Regions from separate parts of the Homo sapiens genome. Here region 2 is linked to region 1. Evidence: fine-mapped expression QTL. Tissue or cell type: tibial nerve. Region 1 holds a variant in brackets; the other region holds the start of a gene. All regions are shown on one strand. Distances are from middle to middle.

What was found. PIP is the estimated chance that this variant, and not a neighbour inherited with it, causes the effect.
Region 2: TRIM9 starts here. The variant in region 1 is fine-mapped to the expression of TRIM9 in tibial nerve (GTEx, PIP 0.99).

What each region holds. Positions count from the first base shown.
Region 1 is chr14:51,018,665-51,029,458 of GRCh38, reverse strand. TRIM9 (tripartite motif containing 9) reads left to right here. Exons shown (of 13, transcript NM_001387360.1): 2 at 4,099-4,194; 3 at 6,502-6,624. Among named protein-coding and RNA genes, the nearest start is that of TRIM9, 71 kb to the left of the region's middle. RefSeq lists an enhancer at 1-1,068. The variant A/G (reference allele first, on the strand shown) is at 5,174.
Region 2 is chr14:51,089,621-51,100,414 of GRCh38, reverse strand. It overlaps TRIM9 (tripartite motif containing 9), which reads left to right and starts at 5,310. Exons shown (of 13, transcript NM_001387360.1): 1 at 5,310-6,297. The coding sequence starts at 5,476. RefSeq lists a silencer at 5,249-5,318.

The DNA of each region.
Region 1 (10,794 bases):
GTTTATCTTTGTACCTGGGAAGGAGCGGGAGTGGGCTTTGGCTCCTGGGCCCAGTGGTGTTGCGGTGCCTGAATGGCATGCACTGTGATACAGCACCAGAAGGTGCCCCACGCCCGGGGAGGCAGCTGGGTCATTTTCTGAGCCATCAAGCTGCCAGTGCTTGTTTGCCGCCTCCTCTGTTTTGTACCAACTCTTCGAGTGACCCTTTTGACCCATCCTGTGCCTGTAACTTCAGATCCGAGACAGCCAGAAAGCTTCTTTTCATTTGTCCCAGTTTATCGCTATCCAATATTTGTGGTGAATTGAGGGGAAAAGGCCACGTGAAGAATGTTTACAGTGGGAAATGGAAAGAAGATACTGTCTTCTGCCTGGGCACACTCAGCAGCTTGGGCAAGTCAGGCATTGGGCGGGATGGATTGAATTGCATTACCCATTTGCTGAGCGTGAGAAGTAGGTCCTGAAACGTCCTCCACAGTCAGTCCCAGGGTAAGTGCCTGATCTCTCCCTCCTGGGGAGGCAAGGGGAGCCAGGGTCAGGGTGGAAGCTGAGGACGAAAGCCACGCAAGGAGGGAAGGAGGAGGCAGAGTTCTTTGTTTCTCTCCTTCAGGCTTGAACAACTTGTCATCTTTCTGGGAGACCTCGGTGATTCTCAGCATGCTCCCAGCCAAGAACAACTTGACTGGAGATCAGGGCTTCAGCTGCATCATTTTTCTCCTCTCATTCACCTTCAGATCGTGACACCTTTTCAGTAACCTAGAAAACAAATATCCAAGAAATCCGAATGTCACTGCTTAGGCATTATAAACAGCTTTAGAACGTACCTTTCTCCCTTAAATGACTGCTTGTACCACCAAAGATGCCGTGATGAAAACACATACTACATATTTGCATCTTCATTGTTCTGGTCATAAATTTCCAGCACTGCTCTGTGGTCCTGAATGCAGAACATCTTTGTTAGCACAGAGTAGGAATTTAAATGCATCTGGGAAACAAAATCAGTCAATAACAATGTTCTTCTACATCAGATGGAGCTTATAAATGTGATTAAAATACCAACCTATAAAAACAATGTGCATATAAATCCTTACAATAAGAGCACTTTCTAGTGATAGTTTTCCAGGATTTTTCATTGTCTCCTCAATTTCTACAAGTGGACAAAGCTTAAGAGAATGATTTCTAGATCTTTATCTTATAATGCAATTTTTTATCAAATACCAGAACAATCATCAGCCAGGTAGAAGGCATTCTTGGGACGGACCATAAACACAAAGAGGAAATTGGAAATAAATTGATTTTTGCAGTTCACTTACTGCTTTGTCATATAAAATCCTGGGACTAGATGGGGCCAAAACTCTTTGTCTACTACTAGGAATGATTGTATTTCTAAGTATACAGCAGCAACTGGTCAAAAAATCTATGGGTATCAAGTCTGTCTTATACAGACACAATTAATTGCAAGGTTGGAATACAAGACACCAGGCAGCTTCACTTCTGTGTAACCAAATCAATTTTACTTCTGTACTGAAACATCTAAGTGTGGTTACTAAACATAGGTTATAATAAAAAGAGGAAGAAAACTATGGTAGTCCAGCAAACTTTTACTCATTCAGGAAAAAAAAAAGATATGAGTTCTAAAGTAACAATGAAAAAAAATTTCTTCTTTAAAATATGCCTCTCATATTATTGCCTGCTCTTCCAAATGAGACCGTTTTTCCCTCCTTTATCCCTTGGGCTCCTGGAAATATTAATAGTTATTGAGGAGAAACTTTTACTCCAAATAATATTGTAGCTGAGACCCAATCATAAAGAATTTTGCAACTGTAGGCTCACTTTGAGCTTTATCTTACTCAGTTGTGTTGGTCTTGCCTCTTGGAGCCTAAATACATAGAGCAAAGTACAGGTGATCGAAAATGTTCTCCAACAGACCCTGTTCCAGGAATCTGTCCTGCGAATCCCTCCAGTCAGCAGGTGTTTGTGTGAGCAAGAATGAAGAAAACAAATAAGAGTTAACAGCTGGTTGGGCACGGTGGCTCACACCTGTAATCCCAGCACTTTGGGAGGTCGAGGTGGGTGGATCACCTGAGGTCAGGAGTTTGAGACCAGCCTGGCCAACATGGAGAAACCCCATCTCTACTAAAAATACAAAAGTTCACTCGGTGTGGTGGTGCACGGCTGTAATCCCAGCTATTCGGGAGGCTGAGGCAGGAGAATCGCTTGAACCTGGGAGGCAGAGATTGCAGTGAGCCAAGATCACACCATTGCACTTCAGCCTGGGTGAGAGAGTGAGACTCTGTCTCAAAAAAAAAAAAAAAAAAAAAAAAAAAAAGTTAACAGCCAGCATTTATTAAGCACGCATCATGCACTGTGCACCAGTAGGGTAATAGGGTTCTGGGCTTTAGATATAGTATCTTATGCAATGCCCACAAAACCCAAGAATAGTATTCTTCCTCTGATTTTATGGATGAGGTAAAACAATGTATAAAGGGTTGAACAGCCAGTAACTGGCAGCATTTCAGAATTCAGAATTGTTCCCTTAACTAGCAGAAGCTTTCACATTGATTAATGCATTCAACCCTCACAATAACCCAACTACAAAGTATTACTGTTCTTCCCACCTTTTCCATTGGAGTAATTCAGACAAAGGTAACTTTCTCAAGGTCACACTTATAGGGGATAGAGCGAGAATCTGCACCCTTTCAAACCTATATTCTTTCTACCATCCCACATTGCCTCAACCAAGCATTTGGTGTGCATATTTTTAGAGAGTCAGTGCCCAACTTTGTATTTAAAAGACAAATATAAGAGAAAAGCATTCACAGCACCAAGAGATATAATTTTAAGGTTCTGCCCTTTTACAGAAAGGAAAGGGTAGATGAATCATTGTGTTGGCAAGGAGAATAGGCTTTAATTTGAAAAGAAGACAGTGCAGGAAAGGGAGTCTGTCTCTGTACCTGAGGTACGGAAGGGTATACCCAGACTGCTAGGAGGGGAAGGAATTTGTATCAAGTACAGTGATACTTGATATAAATTCCTGCTAGCAATAGAAAACTCCAGAACAGTGACTTGAATAGGAGTTAATTTTTATCACATAACAAGAAAGCTAGTGGTGAAGGTTTCAGGTGTTGACTCAGCTGCTCAAAGATGCCATCAGAACCGAGCTCCTTCCCCTCCCATCCCTCCACCCATACCCTATTGGCCTTCTCCTCATGTGAGCCGGAAGACATCACATCCATCCTAAAGTCAGGAACCACAGTGGAGAGGCTGCATCAATCACAGTGGTTCCGTATCAGCAGAAAAGCAAAAGCTTTCTCAGACCCCTCCAGTCCCCAGCAGACTTCCACTTAGGTGTCGTCCGTCAGGATTGTGTACCACGGCCTCCCCAGCGGACGAGGAGGCTGGAAGAGCAAGTACCTACCTGGACACCTTGCCAACCCAGCAGAACTGCCTCCTCGTATGGATGGGGTGGTGTGGGAAGAAAGAAAGAGAGTAAGCCTTGGTGTCGGAGGCTAGTGAGGAGAGGACACAAATGTGCTAGGGCAGCAGGGCTGTACTTGGGAGAAGGAAGAGGACACGGATGAGGCAGGAGTGGAATGTCATCCTGCCCATTGAATTTGTGATTATATTTAAGTGGCCCCAGAGGATCACACCAGTACCTACCCCTTCCTTCATCCTGTTCTTTACTCTATTCTTTCTGCCCTACCCAGACCAATAGCCCTTTGTGCTAAGTAACGTTGATAAGAATTAGATCATCTGACTCACTATTTTGTTTTGCTTTTTTAGTCCTTAGCAAATATGTATTCAATAAATGATTGTTTAATTAATCAATGAAGGAGGAGATGAAGAAATTCTAGGTTGATATCAGCTGGTGAGGGCCTTTGACTGCTGTGGCCAGAAGTGTTCACTGCTTCCAAGGAGAAACTACTCAGGAGCACAGGGAGTTTCGACACCAGAATCTACCTGTACAAATGCCAGCAAAAAGGTCCAACCTCAGACAAGAGGAATCTGAGGAGGTTGATGACTCTTCAGTTTTGAGTCTCGCTGGCCTTGTTGGTGTATCCTGTGATTACAGCTCCATGGCTTCCTTCTTTGTCTTTGCAGAGCCAGCTCTCCCAGGCGCTGAACGGACTGTCAGACAGGGCCAAAGAAGCCAAGGAGTTTCTGGTACAGCTGCGCAACATGGTCCAGCAGATCCAGGTATGGGTGTTACCTGGGACGCAAGGAAACCCGCCGGTTAATACGTAACTGTGTGGCGGGAGAGTTTCCTTCTCCTCTTTTATTTTTATGTGTCGTGGGAAAATTCCTATTTTGTGGTTGTTGTTGTTCTTTACATACAAACACATAGAGATCAACTTCAAACATACCCCTTCTTGAGGTAGTTACTTTTTGCCAACAAGCCGGAAACACAGCCTGATTTTCCAACTGGTTCCTGTCTTCCACACTGAGGTCCTAATTCTCTACTACTGAATATTCAGAAAGAGGCCTATTTTTTTGTAAACTCAGGGTCCTTATTGTTGAGCTTGTAAAACCTTGTAGGTTTCCAAAACACCTTGTAATAATTGTATCATTTAATGGTAACAGGCCACAGTTTTCTCTTCTTTTCTTCCTTCATTTCCTTCCTGCCTTCCTTTTTTTCTTTTTCATTCCTCCCTTGTTCCTTCTTCCTCTTTTTTCTTCCTCCCTTTCTGCCTTTCTTTCTTCTTTTCTTCCTCCCTGACCCACAATAATGCTTCTCCTCTGCTTAGACATTTAAATATTTTTCAACCATGATCCCCTGGCAACTATAATTTCAGATTGCTTTATCTAGACACAATGACCAGCAATTCAACCAGCATTTAAGAGCTCATAAATTCTCCACTATAGCTGAAGGAGAAAAACCATAAACTGTATAAGACAGTAAAATAATGACCTTCTGTACTGTTTAGCATTCTTATGTTTTGAGGTTTGCCTCACAGAAATAACCTTAGTTCTGGCCTCCAGTAAATTGCCTAAGTTCATATTTAACCATGTCAAGGTAGAAATGGATTTTTAAATGTAAGCCACCCTTTCAAAGAATTACACACTGATTTCTTTGCCTTTTTTTTTGGCACACATGCCCATGTTAAACTTTTGATTCCCTAACAGCCTAGCAGTTTTGTATACTTCCTTCTGTTTTCCAAAGCAATGGAGTTTATCA[A/G]TCAGTTCTTTCTTTACTCTGCTGGCATAAAATGTGCAGCCCCAGGCTTGCCTCTGCCCGGGCCTCTTCATCAGAGCAAAGCTTTCTTTCTGCTCTAAATCAGTGACAGAGCTTACAAGGAGAAGGTTTCCCCTCACCCCACCCTCCAATATTACCCTGCATGTGGCATAGAGAGCTCTTAAATGATGTTTTCCAAAGGCCTTCTCTGAGAGTTCAAAAGCAATTGCCGTGAAAGCCAAAATTTAGCATTGCTCAAGCAATTACTAATGCATTCCTTATACGAAGACCTTGCATTTGAAAACAATTACTAAATGCCTACCAGTTGATTATTATATAAAAAGACACAGTTCTTTATGACTTTGGTAATAAATTTAAATTTGTGCCTTAAATAAATTTAAATTGTGCCTTTCTTGCCAGCCCCAAAAGTTTACAGTTTACTCAACTGGGTGGTGTTTTTTAAGTATTACTAACGTATATGTGAGTATTTAGCTTTCGTTTACTGTAAATTACTTTTTTTCAGATTATGCATATATATGCAAAATTGCATATATTACTCATTGAAAAGCTTATCCTTAATAACTGCATATAACTCATTGAAAGAATTGCTTAAAATAAATGTCTATGGCATGTACAGATTTAAATCAAATAAAAAGGTTATATCCAGCATTTAATTTAAACATCACAGGGAAGCTATAATTCACTTAGTATGAAGTTGCCTTTCCCCTGCAAGGTGTTGGGTCATATCTGATTTTTATGGCAGGGTGATCCCTGTTACACACATTGATTGTTTTTTTCTGCCTACTATTTGCTTTCCTTAATGAAAGGGGCAAGTACTTTTACCCATTATTCTTATAAACTTCTGTTCTCATTGGATTATTGTTAATATTGAAGACCAGTGCCATCCTTTTTCTTCTTTATTCCTTTGAATTTAATGATTTCTCGTGCCTCAGCAATGCCCCACTCCCTCCTCATTGCCTTTTTGAATGCCAGCTTCCACCATACATAGCTGAACATATGTGGCCCTCAAAAACATTCATAAACAACTCTATGAACTAAAGCTTTGTTTTGCTTAATAGAATTCAAATTGTGGAGATGATTTCCTTTTGATAAATTTAAGTGATAAATATTTATCCCTTTTAATCTAAATTTAAAGCAAAACATGACCACTGTAGAATAAAGTTTATCCAGTTATTTTTTTAAAATTACCAAATGTGCATTGTGGACAGAGTTCCTTTTCATTCCCTTCAGCAGGATGGGGGAGCTCTGTTTTCTCTGGCAGCCTGAGGCACCCAGCAGCTTGCAGTTGAGAAATGTGCTCTGTTACACAGGAGAACAGTGTGGAGTTTGAAGCCTGTCTGGTGGCCCAATGTGATGCCCTCATCGATGCCCTCAACAGAAGAAAAGCCCAGCTGCTGGCCCGCGTCAACAAGGAGCATGAGCACAAGCTGAAGGTGAGTGCTGCATCATGGGAAGAGCAGAAAGCCAACAAGCCAGGCTCCCGAGGGGCATGATGGACAGGCTGGGAGAATTCCTTCCCATGGACAGGAGGAGAGGATGCCCACAGCCTTGGGTAGCCAGTGGTCTGGCCAGAAAGGAACAGACACCTCCCTTCATTCACTACCTGCTCCTTCATTTACCCAAATAATGTTTGTTGGGTGACTTTTCTCAGCCAGGAACTGCAATGGACATAGGAATAATAAAGAAATCAAAATTCTTGCCTTCATGGGACTTATATTCTATCAAGAGGGACAAATAATAAACAAGATAAGTGTCTTCCTCCATTTTATGTTGATATAGCGGAATCCCACAGACTGGGTGATTATAAATAATAGAATTATATTTAGCTCATGGTTCTGAAGACTGGGAAGTCCAAAAGCATGGTGTTGGCTTCTGGTGGGGCCTTCATGCTGCATCATCCCATGGCAGAAGGCAGAAGGACAGGCGAGCATGGGAAATGAGAGGATAAGAGCCAAACTTCAACCTTTTATTGGGAGCCCACTCCCATGATAATTAACCCACTCCCAAGATAATAGCATTCGTCCATTCATGAAGGCAGGGGCCTCATGTCCTAATCACTCCTTAAAGGCTCCACCTCTTAATACTTTTATAATGGCAATTACATTTCAACATGGGTTTTGGAAGAGATATTCAAACCATAGCAATAAGTAAGTAAAATATGGAGTATATTAGTAAAAAGTGCTAAGAAAAATTCTAAAAGTAGGAAAAGAGGATGGTGAGTACTGGGGATAGGGGTGGAAATTTTGGATAGGGTGGCCATACACAGGCAAAAAAATGTGTTTTTGAATTGAAAAATAGAATCTGTACTTTCTAGAAAATGAGCATGATTTGTCTTAACTTCTCAAGTGAACTTTACAGTTGGAAGCTGTAAAGAATTTTGTCATGACATGGTGGAATCAACTGGCTATTAGAATGGGACCCTATTGGCAGGACTGGTCCTCCAGGAGACATCTGATATTCCATCTATCACCCCATTGGTGCAGGGCAACAAGATGTGAGAGGAAGGATGAATGCATGGGAAGAGCAAACCAGAAGGGGTCCAGCAGTAGACAATCAGCTGAGGCCCACACATGTGGCCAGCAGGCTTCAGAGTGGCTACTGGTGGGTGGTGGGTATGTGGTGTGCAGTGTTGATATGGCATTAGGATGAAGGGAGAAATGAGGTCTGGTCTTACGCTCATAGTGCTGGCAGGGGAGCAGGAGGAGGCAGGGACATGAAGGTGGTTCAGAAGGACTTCTGCCCTTATGGAGTTTACAGTTCAATGGAAGAGATAAGCTATACCCACAGCTGACTCCAACATAGGTACAGAGTGGGCTTCCAGGAGAGAGGTGCCCAATGTCATAGAAGTTTGACAGGGCAAAATTACTTGCAGTTAAAACGGTCACAGAGTACCTCAAGAGCTGGCACCTGAGCAGTCCAAATTGTAGGAAGTGTGTGTTAATGACCATTTACATTCCTACCTGCAGGAATCGGCAAAGCTGTCAGGGAAGAAGTGGGTGATTAGCACATGTGCACTGTGGTCTTGTTCCATCTGGTTAGGCCTGAGGACCAAGGGATGTTTTCTGTATCCAGCACCTGGCCTAACATTGCTAAAAAACTGTCACTATAGCCCTTCAATCTGAGCACCCTTCAGAAACCCAAAACTTTTATTGTTATAGCAGTCCTCAAAATATCATTCGAATCACATAGAACTGTATAAAATAAAACCACAAATGTCTTTGGGAAATGAAACTGAACAGTTTTCCCCGCTAAATAGTGGAACAACTATTTAAGTACCTAGCCATAACATTTTAACTTTCTTCTTAATGGAAATATCTCTTTTGAAACATTGCGAACACTTCCTGGCACTTTTTAACAGAACATGGTGAACAGTTTGCGACAGTCACATGGTGATGGTAGGGCAACTCCAGCCTTTCTATATGGGAGAGACATAAAGGCAGCAATCTGGAGGAGGAATTTTTTGATGATTGAGAATGCATCATTTATCCCTATCAAAGAATGGCAGAAGGCATGAGAAGCCCCGTTGCCCTCCTGCTTAGTGTTGCCTCTGCAGAACAGGACTGTGTGAAAATCAGTTAAGGACTGTGCTGTGGCTGCAGATGTCATTGCCCAGGAATGGCTTTCACGCATCGCTGGGATGCCACATCGCGTGACTATGTCCTCTTCCCTCCTCTGATGGTCCATCTGTACTGGCTAGGCTGCCCCAGCAGGGAATGCGGATGCATTTGGGGGCCACTGAGCAGAGGCAGCTGCCTGCCCTCATTCCACCCTGCCCAGGCTGGAGTTTCCTGCCCAGACCTCAAAGGACTGCAGAAACCAGAGACAGGTGGCTGGCTGTCCCCCATAGCAGCAAAGCTGTTCTGTCTTCTATCTCGAATGATTTGTTTTTCTGCTGTTTTCAGCTGATTATATCTGTCATTGCTTCCAAAAACAGCCACCAGTGCCACTCACACTGTCATGACCACTGATACAGGCCTCCACGGCTCGCTCGCTCTCCTCTCCCCCTGCCTTTTCCCTTTCTTGTCACTCTTGTTGCTACTCAGATTTGTGAGAAAAGACTGGCCTTTTATAGACATCACTTGCCAAGCACAGTACTTCTTTCTATCTTTGTTGGCTAACCCATCACTCACTGTCCTGCAGGGGTAATCTTATGTTCTTCCGCTTCCCTTTGGCTGAGTTCTCTGAGGGCCTGCTTTTTGCTGACAAAGAGAGGAGTTGTGTGTGTATTTTTCGGGCAACTCTCTCTCCTTGAGCAATCCAAAAAACTAGGAATGCTGGAAAGTGAGTGTGTACTTACGCAGTCTTTATAATCTACTCATGTCCCTCTCTGAAAGCACTGATTGCTTGAACAGATTTAATAGTTCTGGTTCTGAGGCAAGATGGAACTGAGTGGTAAAGAGCCCAGGTTCTGTGTCATAGAGGCTGGGGTGAGAGGACACACTTTCTCACTTACTAGGTTTCTCATCTTGAGCAAGTCTGTGGCTCAAAAGTTTATTTCATCTGTGTGTAAAATAAGGCTGGAAGTGGTACCTCATAGGGCATTGCAAAGCACTTAGCACAATCTTTAATGTATATTAACTGTTATTGTTGTGATTGAGAGAGAATGACTGGAAATATGGTTTCATTCAACACCCTGAAGAAGAGTTTCCAGGGGCTTGTTTTCTATGATACCATAATTCATAGCCTAGAATTAGCTCATACACTGGTGTTATTATCCATGAACCTGGGAGATTCTTTAGTGGCATGAGTTCATAATTGATCATTGTATAAAATAGTTCACAAAGTTTGATGAGCTAAAAAAAAGCAAAAAAGCTTTGGAGACATATGCAGATGTGGACATGTTTGAGGGAAACTGTTTGAAATGTAAATTATAGTTAATACTACTCTGTGGTTTGATAAGATGCTGGGAGCCAAATATCTATTTTCAGAATGTGGTGAACTAATGCGAATGTCAGAAAGCTACTGAGGGAAGAAGTGTTTTTGAGCTTCCAATAAAAATATTACTAACTCATATTTGGAACTACTTGGGCAGTATTCCAACAGTGAGCAGAGCACACTGGACCTCCAGGTTTCTTGTCTTGGTCTGTCCATTGTGTTAACATCCTTCCCAGGTCTGCTTTAGCTGAAGAAAGCCTACATTTCCTATCTGTGCTCCTCACAGGGAATTTATGACAACACTTAAACTAAATTGTGCCATTAATGAAATCTATGCTTTCTTCAGAAACTTTACATATGCCACTTTCTCTTGATAAGCCCAAAGACATATCTGAAAATTATTTGTTGTTTATGTAACATTCACAATTTGACATAACCCTGAAATTGTCTTAAATGTGTTCTCTCTAATATTTTAGAATGAATTCACACATTGAATAGTAAGAGGCGATATGTATTTTCTTGATTACCTTTGAACTCTAAGATAATCTGAAAGAAAAAAAATGTTACAGTTATTCCAAATGATTCTGGGGAAAAATTCTAGCTTTCAGTTTCCATGTGTGGTTGGTAAATTTAACATACCAACAAAATTACTCAGCGAGGATGCTGAGGGCTGATGAGAAAGCTTACCATGTTGCGCAGTCTTCATATTAATATTTACTGAGGGCCTC
Region 2 (10,794 bases), 71 kb before region 1:
TTTCAATACCATTAAAGTTGCTTATTTTAAAAAATTTAACTAGAACTCATCGGTGTAACCATCCTCTCCTTATTAATGACAAATCTGAAATTATCTTTCAAATCCCTTTTATGGAGGTTGGTCTACTCAATCTTTCTACTTTGAGGGATTGATTCAATTAATATATTTTTGTCAGAAAGTATCCCTTTCCTTTATGTTTTAAAAATCGTCGTCATAGAGTTTCACAGAATACTTTCCCCATGTGTGTTAATTTGCAAGTTCTATTTTACTTTCCACGGAATAAATAGTTATATTCCTTTCCCAGGCCTAATAATACATGTAATGTTTTAATATTATGTAAGAAAAAAGTATACCAAATAATCCCTCCAACAGAAACATTTTATTTCCCACCTTTCCTTTCTCATTTCTTCTTTCTCCCCAGTATCAAGTCCTTAGGATGCTTTCAGGTCCCCACTCGCTCCTAACCCATTCTGGGGACTCTGTTAAGATTTATTTGTTATTTAAAAGTCTTCTTAAGTATTTTTCTCAGATGGAATGTGTGAATGCTCTATTCTTTAAATTCTTGCAAATATTCTTCTTTGACCAGACAAGCAAATGATCTTTTGGCAGGCTATAAAATATTTAAGCTGTGCTATGGTTTGACTGCGTCCCCGAAAGTTCATGTGTTAGAAACTTGATCCCCAGTGAGAAGGTGTCAGGAGTTGGGACCTTTAAGAAGTGTTTAGGTCACAGGGGCACCACCTTCATGGATGGATTAATGCCATTACCATGGGAATAGGTTTCTTATCGCGGGAGTGGGTTTCTTATAAAAGGAGAAGTTCAGCTCCCTCTTGCCCTCTATCTTGCCCTCTCTCTGCCCTTCCACCATGGGATGATGCAACAAGAAGGCCCTCACCAGATGCCAGTGTCTTGATTTGGGCCTTCCCAGCCTCCAGAACCATGAGCCAATATATTTCTGTTTCTTATAAATTATCCAGTCTGTGGTATTCTGTTATAGCAGCAAAAACGGACTATGACAGGGTGACTTCTTTCAGTTTTAGTAGGCTGTAGAATTTGTTTCACATTATTTTCACCTGCAAGGTTGTAGAAAGCAGTCCAATGCCAATCTGATTCTTTTTTCTTTACAATTAAGTTGTTCTTTCTTTCTGGGAGCTTGTAAAATGATCTTTTTTTTTTCTTCTGAGTTAAGAATTGTGTCTGTATATAACTGGGTCTTTTTTCATTAATGTCATCTATAATTCTAAAATCCTTTCAATCTGTAATTTTATATATTTTTTTGGTTCAGAGAAATGTTTTCCAACTATGGTTTTCCCTCCACCTGTGTTATTTCCTCATTCTGAGATTCCTATTATTCACAAGTTAGGTCTTCTGGATTTATCCTCTAGCTCTCTTACCTCCATATAGGATTCATTAAATCTTCATTTTCTCCGATTCTCCAGTCTACCCTTCCCAAAGCATCAGTAATATATTACTTACAATAAGAAATACTACAGAATTTGAATATGGCCATCTTCCAGTAGTACTAAATGGGAAAAAGCTCATAATTCACTATAATAATCAAATAATTTAAATTACCAAAGGATATCAACAATAAATGTTATTAAAGAATAGTACAAAATTATAAGTATAAAATTGAATATTAGTAGACTAAATGGGGTAAATTATTCCATAAAAGAAGTTTCTTCAGAATTTCTATTGAGAATAGAAACATCACATTTATCACTTTTCAAGTGATGTACTTTTACAAACCACATGCAGCAAGACCCTTATTCAAATACCTTAATAAAATATTTTTATATACATGTCAGATAATCTTAAAATGTTAGAGCCTAAGATCAGCTCCTTTCACTGATTTCCACCCCCCTCCCACAACTAAGGATAGACTACTCTAGGAGAGAATGTGGAAAGAAAAACCTTTCTTCTCTGTGTTCATTCTTTAGACTCACAGAGACTGTTTTGTTAATAATCAAGCATTGTAGTCAAAAGCAAATAGGAAAGCAACTCAATTTTTCATTGAAAAACATTTATCAAAAAAAGAAAAACATTTATCTTTTTTTAAAAATGCAAAAGCTGTTGTTGCACTTTAAATGTAATTGCTCTCATTGCTAAAGAACATAATTTGGGTGAATAGTAAGTTTCAAAGGATAATTAGGCACTTTACACAAAAGAGAACATCTGCAATCATCCCAGGAATGATGAAATTACAGGGCTATCAATCCTTGTGCTTCAGGGCATGGACTGATCACCAGCTGGAAGACAGAAGATATCCCCTCAATAGTATAATATTTCTATAATATTACCAATTACATTTCAATTTTTATTCCCTTTTAAACATAAGTCATTGGGGGGCTATAAAGCACATTATGGCCAAACAGTGCAACATGAGGGGAAAATCTTCAAAGGCCTTCAAGAATATTTTAAAGAAATGGATTCAAAGAAAAATAGTAAACTTTTGGCTGGGAGCGCTGGCTCATGCGTGTAATCCCAGCACTTCGGGAGGCTGAGGCAGGTGGATCACTTGAGGTCAGGAGTTTGAGACCAGTCTGGCCAACATAGTGAAACCCTGTCTCTACTAAAAAAAAAAAATGTAAAAATTAGCCAGGCATGGTGGTGCACACCTGTAGTCCCAACTACTCAGGAGGCTGAGGCACGAGAAACACTTAAACCTGGGAGGTGGAGGTTGCAGTGGGCCAAGATTGTGCCACTGCACTCCAGCCTGGGGAACACAGCAAGACTCCAGTCTCAAAAAAAAAAAAGGAAAAAAAAAGTAAACTTTCAGAGAAGGTGAGCAGAATATCATAGAAGTTAACAAAGAACATTTTGGGTACTTATCACATTCAGAGCTTGAAGAGAGTAGAACTCAGCACTTGTTGAATGAATGAATGAATGAATGAATGAACAAAGGAACAAACTTATATGTGTCCGGGTTCCAATCCCAGCCTCACCATATTTGACCTTGAGTACTTAAGTGTCTTTGCTTATCTTCAGTTTATTTATCTGTAAAATGGGAATAATTGTGCCTACCTCTTCTTGTAATTACAGGGATTTAACCAAGTAATGTATACAAATAAATAAATCCCCTGTTTGGAACAGGGTGAACTCTCAACAAATGAGTCATTTTAAGAGCTCTCCTAGGATTGACTGATTTAGCTAATTCCTAAACAAACAGATCTAACAATGAAATCATCTCAAGCGACTTCATAATAGACCAAATCTTTCTATATTGACTATATTATAAACCTGTGTTGTTCTTTTTGCGAACCCAACACTGCATTACACCATGAGACATCCTCTAAAATTCTTCTTTACTTTGAACTAAGCATAAACTTTCTGCTAATAAGATCTCTTAGATGATATACTATTATAAGCAGAGTTCAAACTCATACAAAGTGTAACAGCTGCTCACCTTGCTGGTCCAAGATATTGTGACTTGTGGTCAAATGCATACAAAAGCCATAAAAGGACACTCCTTTCTAATATTTTCTCAATAATTAACTTTCATTACAATTCAATTAATACTATATTGAATATAATTATTAGTAATTTCTCTTGGGACCTATAAATTAAGTGTATCCTGCAAGTGCAGCTAATGTCCCAACCATACCTGAAGAAATTTTATCTATGTCTGTAAACAGAGTGCATATACCTTTGGATGCTCTGGTCTCAACTAGTTGAAAGCCAGCTTAAAAATAAATCACGTCACATTTATGATTAACATGGCTTTAAATAACAATGGGGACTTTATTCCCCCACACAATGATCAACTACTGTTCTCACTGCAACTAAAGATGTTGAAAAGATAACCTAGTTTATTGGACAATTTCTACAAGGGCAGTGTAATAAAATGTCCATTTTTTTTCTGGACAATAAAGTACTTTTAAATTATCAACATAGCTGCATATAATCAAGTTATCTCCTGTCTGGAAGGTGGAAAATTGGAATATTTCTAGAACTTGCAAAGAGTTTTTGTCCTTTACTTCATGAATCATTCAGCAAAAGCCGGCTATGTACTATTTCAAATGTTACTACCTCAGAATGTCACTTGACTCAAAGATTTTCCTTTCCTTTTCTTCTTCCTCCCTCCCTTTCTTCCCTTCCTTCCGCCTTTCCTTTCCCCCCCCCTTCCTTCCTCCCTCTCTCCCTCTTTCCCTTCTTCCCTCCCTCCCTCCCTCCTTGTACAGGGACTAACACTAGAATCACCGCCTCACCATGCCCCTCGTTGGAAGAAACAGAAAGGCACACGATGCTGTAAGCTATGGCAGATGCCCAGGGCACGTGGGGTTGAATAATGCTGTTTGGAGTGAAACACTGAGACTCCGCAGTCACACAGTGATTCATTTACAGAGCTTTACTAAACTACGGGCACTCAGAAATAGACAAACTGTTCTTGCCTCAACCGAACCAAAGGCCCAGCGGGCCTCGAAAAAGCTCAGCCAGGTGCTTTGGGAGGCCGCGAGGAGGAAGAAGGATCCGTGGAAGGAAGCACGTTCACACCACGGCACTGAGGCCTCTGGGCCGAGCTATAATTTAAAGCATGAAACGAAGGGGTCATAGATTCTGACTAATGCTGACCATTTCCATCGGTTACCCAGTTGAATCTCATGTCGACACTAGGAAATCGACTTTATACATGCTCTTTAGGAAACGAGGGACGCAGGATGAAAGAAGCCAAGAGTGTCGCCAGGGCTTGCGCCAGCGCCGTCAGACTCCCGGGATGGGGGAGCTCCAGGGCACGGCGTCAGCGGATTCACGGAGAAGGAGAAAAGCCCCACTGCCGTGCAGAAGCCTAGGCCCGGGTGAGACGCCTGCGAAGGCTGCCAGCAGCGGAAGAGAAGGGGCGTCCTCCGTGCTGCGCAGCACTCGCCCGCGGTAGGTGGGCGCGGAGCTCAGAGCTGGGAGCCAAACGCAAACGCTGGCGAGAAGCCCCAGCCCCCTCCGGCAGCCCACTCGCTGCGGGGAGGGGTTTCTCACGCCCCCAGCTCCTGGGAGACTGCACCGGAGGTCGGAAGTAAGCCGGGCGAGGATGAATCATCCCGCCTAACTCCTCCTTCCCGGTCCCCTAGCCTCCGCACGCCGGCCCCCTTCAGAGATCTTGCAGCCGCGAGCGAAGACTGCCCTATCCTCAGACTCTACCGAACCCCCTGTGGCCTGCGGAGACGAGGAGACGGACGGGTCTGGTGGCCAATGAGAGCTTCGATCTCTTGCCCCCCGCCCAATGGGCCGCTGCTCATGGGCCGGGGCGGGACTAGGAGGGCAGGTAGGGGCGGTCCGGGCTGGCGCGCGGCGCGGCGGCTACGCGGCTGCGGCTCACAGAGCTAGCGCCTCTCTGGGTGTCCGTGCCAGTGCTGCGCGGGAAGGCACCACCACCACAGCCGCCGCCGCTGGCCAGGGTGCTGGACAAGACGGGCCCGTCGGCCACCTCGCCAGCTCAGGCACCCGCTGCAGCCGTCGCTGTCTCCTCCCAGACCGGTCCCCATGGAGGAGATGGAAGAGGAGTTGAAATGCCCCGTGTGCGGCTCCTTCTATCGGGAGCCCATCATCCTGCCCTGCTCTCACAATTTGTGTCAGGCGTGCGCCCGCAACATCCTGGTGCAGACCCCAGAGTCTGAATCCCCCCAGAGCCATCGGGCCGCGGGCTCCGGGGTCTCCGACTATGACTATCTGGACCTGGACAAGATGAGCCTATACAGCGAGGCGGACAGCGGCTATGGCTCCTACGGGGGGTTCGCCAGCGCCCCCACTACCCCGTGCCAGAAGTCCCCCAACGGCGTCCGCGTGTTTCCCCCGGCTATGCCGCCACCGGCCACCCACTTGTCACCGGCCCTGGCCCCGGTGCCCCGCAACTCCTGTATCACCTGCCCCCAGTGTCACCGCAGCCTCATCCTGGATGACCGGGGGCTCCGCGGCTTCCCCAAGAATCGCGTACTGGAAGGGGTAATTGACCGCTACCAGCAGAGCAAAGCCGCGGCCCTCAAGTGCCAGCTCTGCGAGAAGGCGCCCAAGGAAGCCACCGTCATGTGCGAACAGTGCGATGTCTTCTACTGCGATCCGTGCCGCCTGCGCTGCCACCCGCCCCGGGGGCCCCTAGCCAAGCACCGCCTGGTGCCCCCGGCCCAGGGTCGTGTGAGCCGGAGGCTGAGCCCACGCAAGGTCTCCACCTGCACAGACCACGAGCTGGAGAACCACAGCATGTACTGCGTGCAATGCAAGATGCCCGTGTGCTACCAGTGCTTGGAGGAGGGCAAACACTCCAGCCACGAAGTCAAGGCTCTGGGGGCCATGTGGAAACTACATAAGGTGAGTCCTAAGAAAACCCACTCCTAACTCCCTGCGTCTCCGATCATCCGGTTTTGCAGCAGACGGTCCCCGTCTCTTGCGCACAGCGCATCCCAGTGGGGGCGCAATGCAGGTGCCTTCGATGTTTACCTCCCTGGTCTGGTGCATTGCAGGAGGCATGGGGGAATCTTAACCGGCGCACGGGGGAGTTGAATGCCCCCACAGAGTTGTTGCGGGGATGCCTTAGAGCGGGTCTCTCGGGGCGCGCTGCCTGCGAGCGGGACTCAGGGCGCCCCCTTTCCGCGGCGGGTCTGCAGCCAGTGGCCGCGGCCAGTGTGTGGGAAAGCACTGCATAGCTGGGTAGAGCCGCGCCAGTGCCCAGGGCCGCTAGGCACGCTCGAGGGCAGGGCGGGCTGCGAACCCTCGGGGAGGGACTGGGATGGGGGCGGTGGGGTCGCGCGGACGGCGGGAGTCTGTCGCTGCTGGATAGGCGGACCTGGTGAGGCACGGCGGAGGGTCGGGGAGACGCCGCAGGCGGAATACTGATGAGCCCGGCTCTGGGCCAGACCTGGCTCTCGAGCTGGAGAGAACGCGGGGTCCTGGTGCCACGTGCTCAAAAGACAGAGCGGAGAGGGCAGCCAGCGGTCGCCATGGCAACGCGACGTGCAGGCTTGGGCCTGAACCCTTCCGGAGTTGGGACCTGAGACTAGAGTGTCAGGACCGGAGTTTGCGCAGTCGCGGCCTGGAAGCCAGACAGGTGCATCTCCTAGGGAAACCTTCTCCTCCCAACTATACACACACCCACTTCTCCGGAATTCAAGCCCTTTCCTCTTTCAGTAGTTATATGTGCAAACTTTGGGACACCTGTTACCAGATTTATCTTTCCAGTCTCTTTTGATGATATTTCCACCATGGCTAGACACGAAGAGGCTTTAGCAACATATTCTGTCGTGCCACTCCTCTGCTCAAAACCCTCCAATTTTTCCCACGCTTCTCAGCCTGTCCTACATGACCTCTTCCATTTTGGCCCCTTCGACCTCATTGCCTCCCACTTACTCCCTCTGCTCCAGCCACACTGCTTCTTACTGTTCCTCAAACGACGCCAGGCACCTCCCTACTCCAGGGCCTTTGCATTTGGTGTTCATTCAGCCTGAAGCTCTCTTCCCCAGTTACCTGAGATCCGAATGGGTCACTTACCTGCATCCTTCAGCTCTTTGCTCAGGTATCATCTTTGCAGCGCCACCCACCCAGACACCCGCTAGTTCCCTCTCAGCTTTATTTTCCTCAGTAGTATTTATCCCTGTGTGGCATGCTATATATTTTAATTATGTTATTTTTTGTATTTATCTATTGCTCCCTGTACACACACAGACATAAACGAAATAAGCCTCATGAGGAAGAAGATCCTTATAATATGCCCACACTGCTTAGAAGGAAGGGAGCAACTCTTGAGGAGATGTGCATGAATTTGCTTTTCATTTTTTAAATGATCCATTTAGTTGGGGCTGTGGAGTGCAGGGCAGGGATTCAGGATGGTTGGAAGGAGCTTTTCTTTACATCACTGAGTTGCATACCCAAGGATGAGATGGAGCAGTGAAGATAGTGTCCAGGCCTCAGCTGTGGCCTTGCTCAGAGTCTCCCAGAATTCCTTGGAGACTAGAAAGGGTAGCTTTTGCAAGTGGCCAACTGTGGAGTTAAGGCTGGAACATTGATATTTTGTTTACAGCAAGAAAAAAATGTCATTAATTTTCAGCAATCAGTGAAAGTTTTCTCAACTCCTTAACCCGGTTGAATGTGATCCATGTTTACAGTCATTCTATTCTCACATATAACCTATTAAATCATATTAGTACTGATGGGGATTTCATTTAGCACAAATTGAAGCCTAACTGGGCACACACCACTGTTTTCAGAACAGTCGAATTTAAATTTTTGAAAATGACATTTAATTTTGAAAGTTTTCAAAACTTGAGTTCACAGCTAGTTTTTTATTCATATTTTGATTTCACTTTTAAACTGCTAATTATAGTCCATGTTGAATTGCCCTACAAAGTATCCTTGGAACTAAAAAATTAATCACTCTGTCAGGAAAAAGAATTTAGAGCCACAAGGTAATTAGGATGGGTAAACCACAACATTATTATTTTTTTTATGACAAGCCTATCCTTGATCTATTAAGACCAAAAGAAACCTTTAAATCTCTGTCAAGCCCCATGTCAATTTGAAATGTTAAATCATTTGTTTTATTGGCAATAGAAATTATGAGTAGACAGACACTGGTGCTGCCTGGGTTGAGATTTAGATATCTACCTGCCACAAAAGAATGTTAAAACCCTTGAAACATGACATAAGTAGGCTAGAAGACCATTTATTCTCTGATCTTTTGCACATTTTTTCCAAAACAGTAAGGACACATAATTTTTGTTCAGTCAATATGAGGATTACTAAACTGCCAAGAAAAAAAATAAGACAGAAGGATGACAGATTTTAACATTCACTTGTCATCTGTTAGATGAACAACAAACATTACTCCCCCACCTTATTTACTTAATAAGGAAGTTAATGTGTTAGCAGCCAGTTTTCTCATATAGTTTATGTTTTAGTTAATGGTACTTCTATCTCCACAAAAGCCCATGGGCCAGAATTTCTATGCCCTGCAAAAATAGGACAGCAAAGAACTATACTAACTAGGTTTCCAAAATTGGGCAGTTAGTTATCAACACAGGTTATTACTAGACCTGAAAAGTTGTCATTCATATTCTATCATATTAGTCATTTCTACTGATAAAGCAAGTCCTGCAGATAAGTATTTCCCACAGGCATAAATCATCATCTTACACACTCAAGATATAATAAAATGGCTGCAGTTTATTTTTAAAGTGGTATTAAAAACATCTGGTTGAAATTCACTAGTTTTCAACTGGCCAGATTAAAATGTTTTTCAGATATTTTTGGTCTTCAAAACTCCATGAAAAATAATAACACATGAATAATAATAATAATAATAATGGTCTTATAAGTCAAATATTTGGTAGCAGTTTTTATTTAGTGCCAGTACTTAACTATATTCCTTTATTCAACGTACTTGTTAAAAGAATTATAACACCAAAAAAGTGATTTTGTAGATACTTTAAAATGGGCAATAGAAACCACTACTATTACTTTGTGATTTTAAGCAGTTCACATTCCTAAATCCTGATATTATCCTTGAATTCCTGGGGTTTCAATAGTCACTGAATCAGGGCTGGGTGCACTGGATTATGCCTGTAATCCCAGCACTTTGGGAGGCCGAGGCGGTCAGATCTCTTGCGGCCAGGATTTAAGACCAGCCTGACCAGCATGTTGAGACTCCATTTCTACTGAAAAATCAAAAATTAGCTGGGCATGGTGGTGCATGCCTTGTAGTTCCAGCTACTTGGGTGGCTGAGGCAGGAGAATTGCTTGAACCTGGGAGGCAGAGGTTGCAGTGAGCCAGGATCTCACCACTGCACTGTAGCCTGGGTGACGATGCAAGACTGTCTCAAAATAAAAAAATGAAGTCACTGAATCAGTAACATATTTGTAACAATTATTCTGTGTTCATGCTACTGAGCAAAGATTTTCTTTTCCTTTCTATTCTAAACACTATTCATTCTTAATCTTGTCTCAAATGTTATTTTTCTCTTACCTTTGTTTTTATAAATGAAAATTTGCAATTTAAACAATATTTTAAAATAAACTGTCAGTTAATATGCCTTCAATTCTAAAATATCCTGGAGAAAAATATCTGCTTAGCTTTATGGTGGCATCTCATTAAATATTTATGTAGCAAAATGTGTTATATAATGCCACTAAAATGATATTCAGTTAACTATATGTCAGCAGTAAACACAATATAGTCTATATATTCCTGTGGTAAATGTAACAGGCAGCATATGTTCATGTTTTTACATTTCTTTTGATTTACTTCTAGTACAATTAGAACATTCTGTGTGCCATGTAAACATTTTTACAGATATTAAGGAAAATGTTACAGAGAAGACAGTTATTCCTCTTTGTACCCAGGCATAATGGAAAGAACTAGATAACAGGAGATCCAGGTTATAGAACCAATGCTGCCACTTACTTGCAGGAAACTTTTTGCAAGTATCATCACCTGTCTGTACTTCCCACCTACAAAGATATAAGGGAGTTAAAATTACAATTGTGAAAGGATTTTGATAAGGTAAATTAAATGTTTATAATTTACTAATTTCAGTTCAACACAACCATAAACATTCATGTCAAACAGAGTCAATGTCTCACCAGTCAACAATTACTGCGTAAAAATCTCATCCCCCAACTTGGGGTACTTTTCTGGATCCTTTTCAGAGCATAGGGTACAGTCCAAAGCTGCTCTGAAAGGTGGCCTAAAAGAGTGAGACTCTTCCTCATGGGTCCAGAGAGAATATTCAGTTGAATTAAGCTCAAGAAATAAGAATACTATACAAAGATTTATATATTAAACAAAAGTATTCTGTTTTTCTCTAAGTAAGCTGA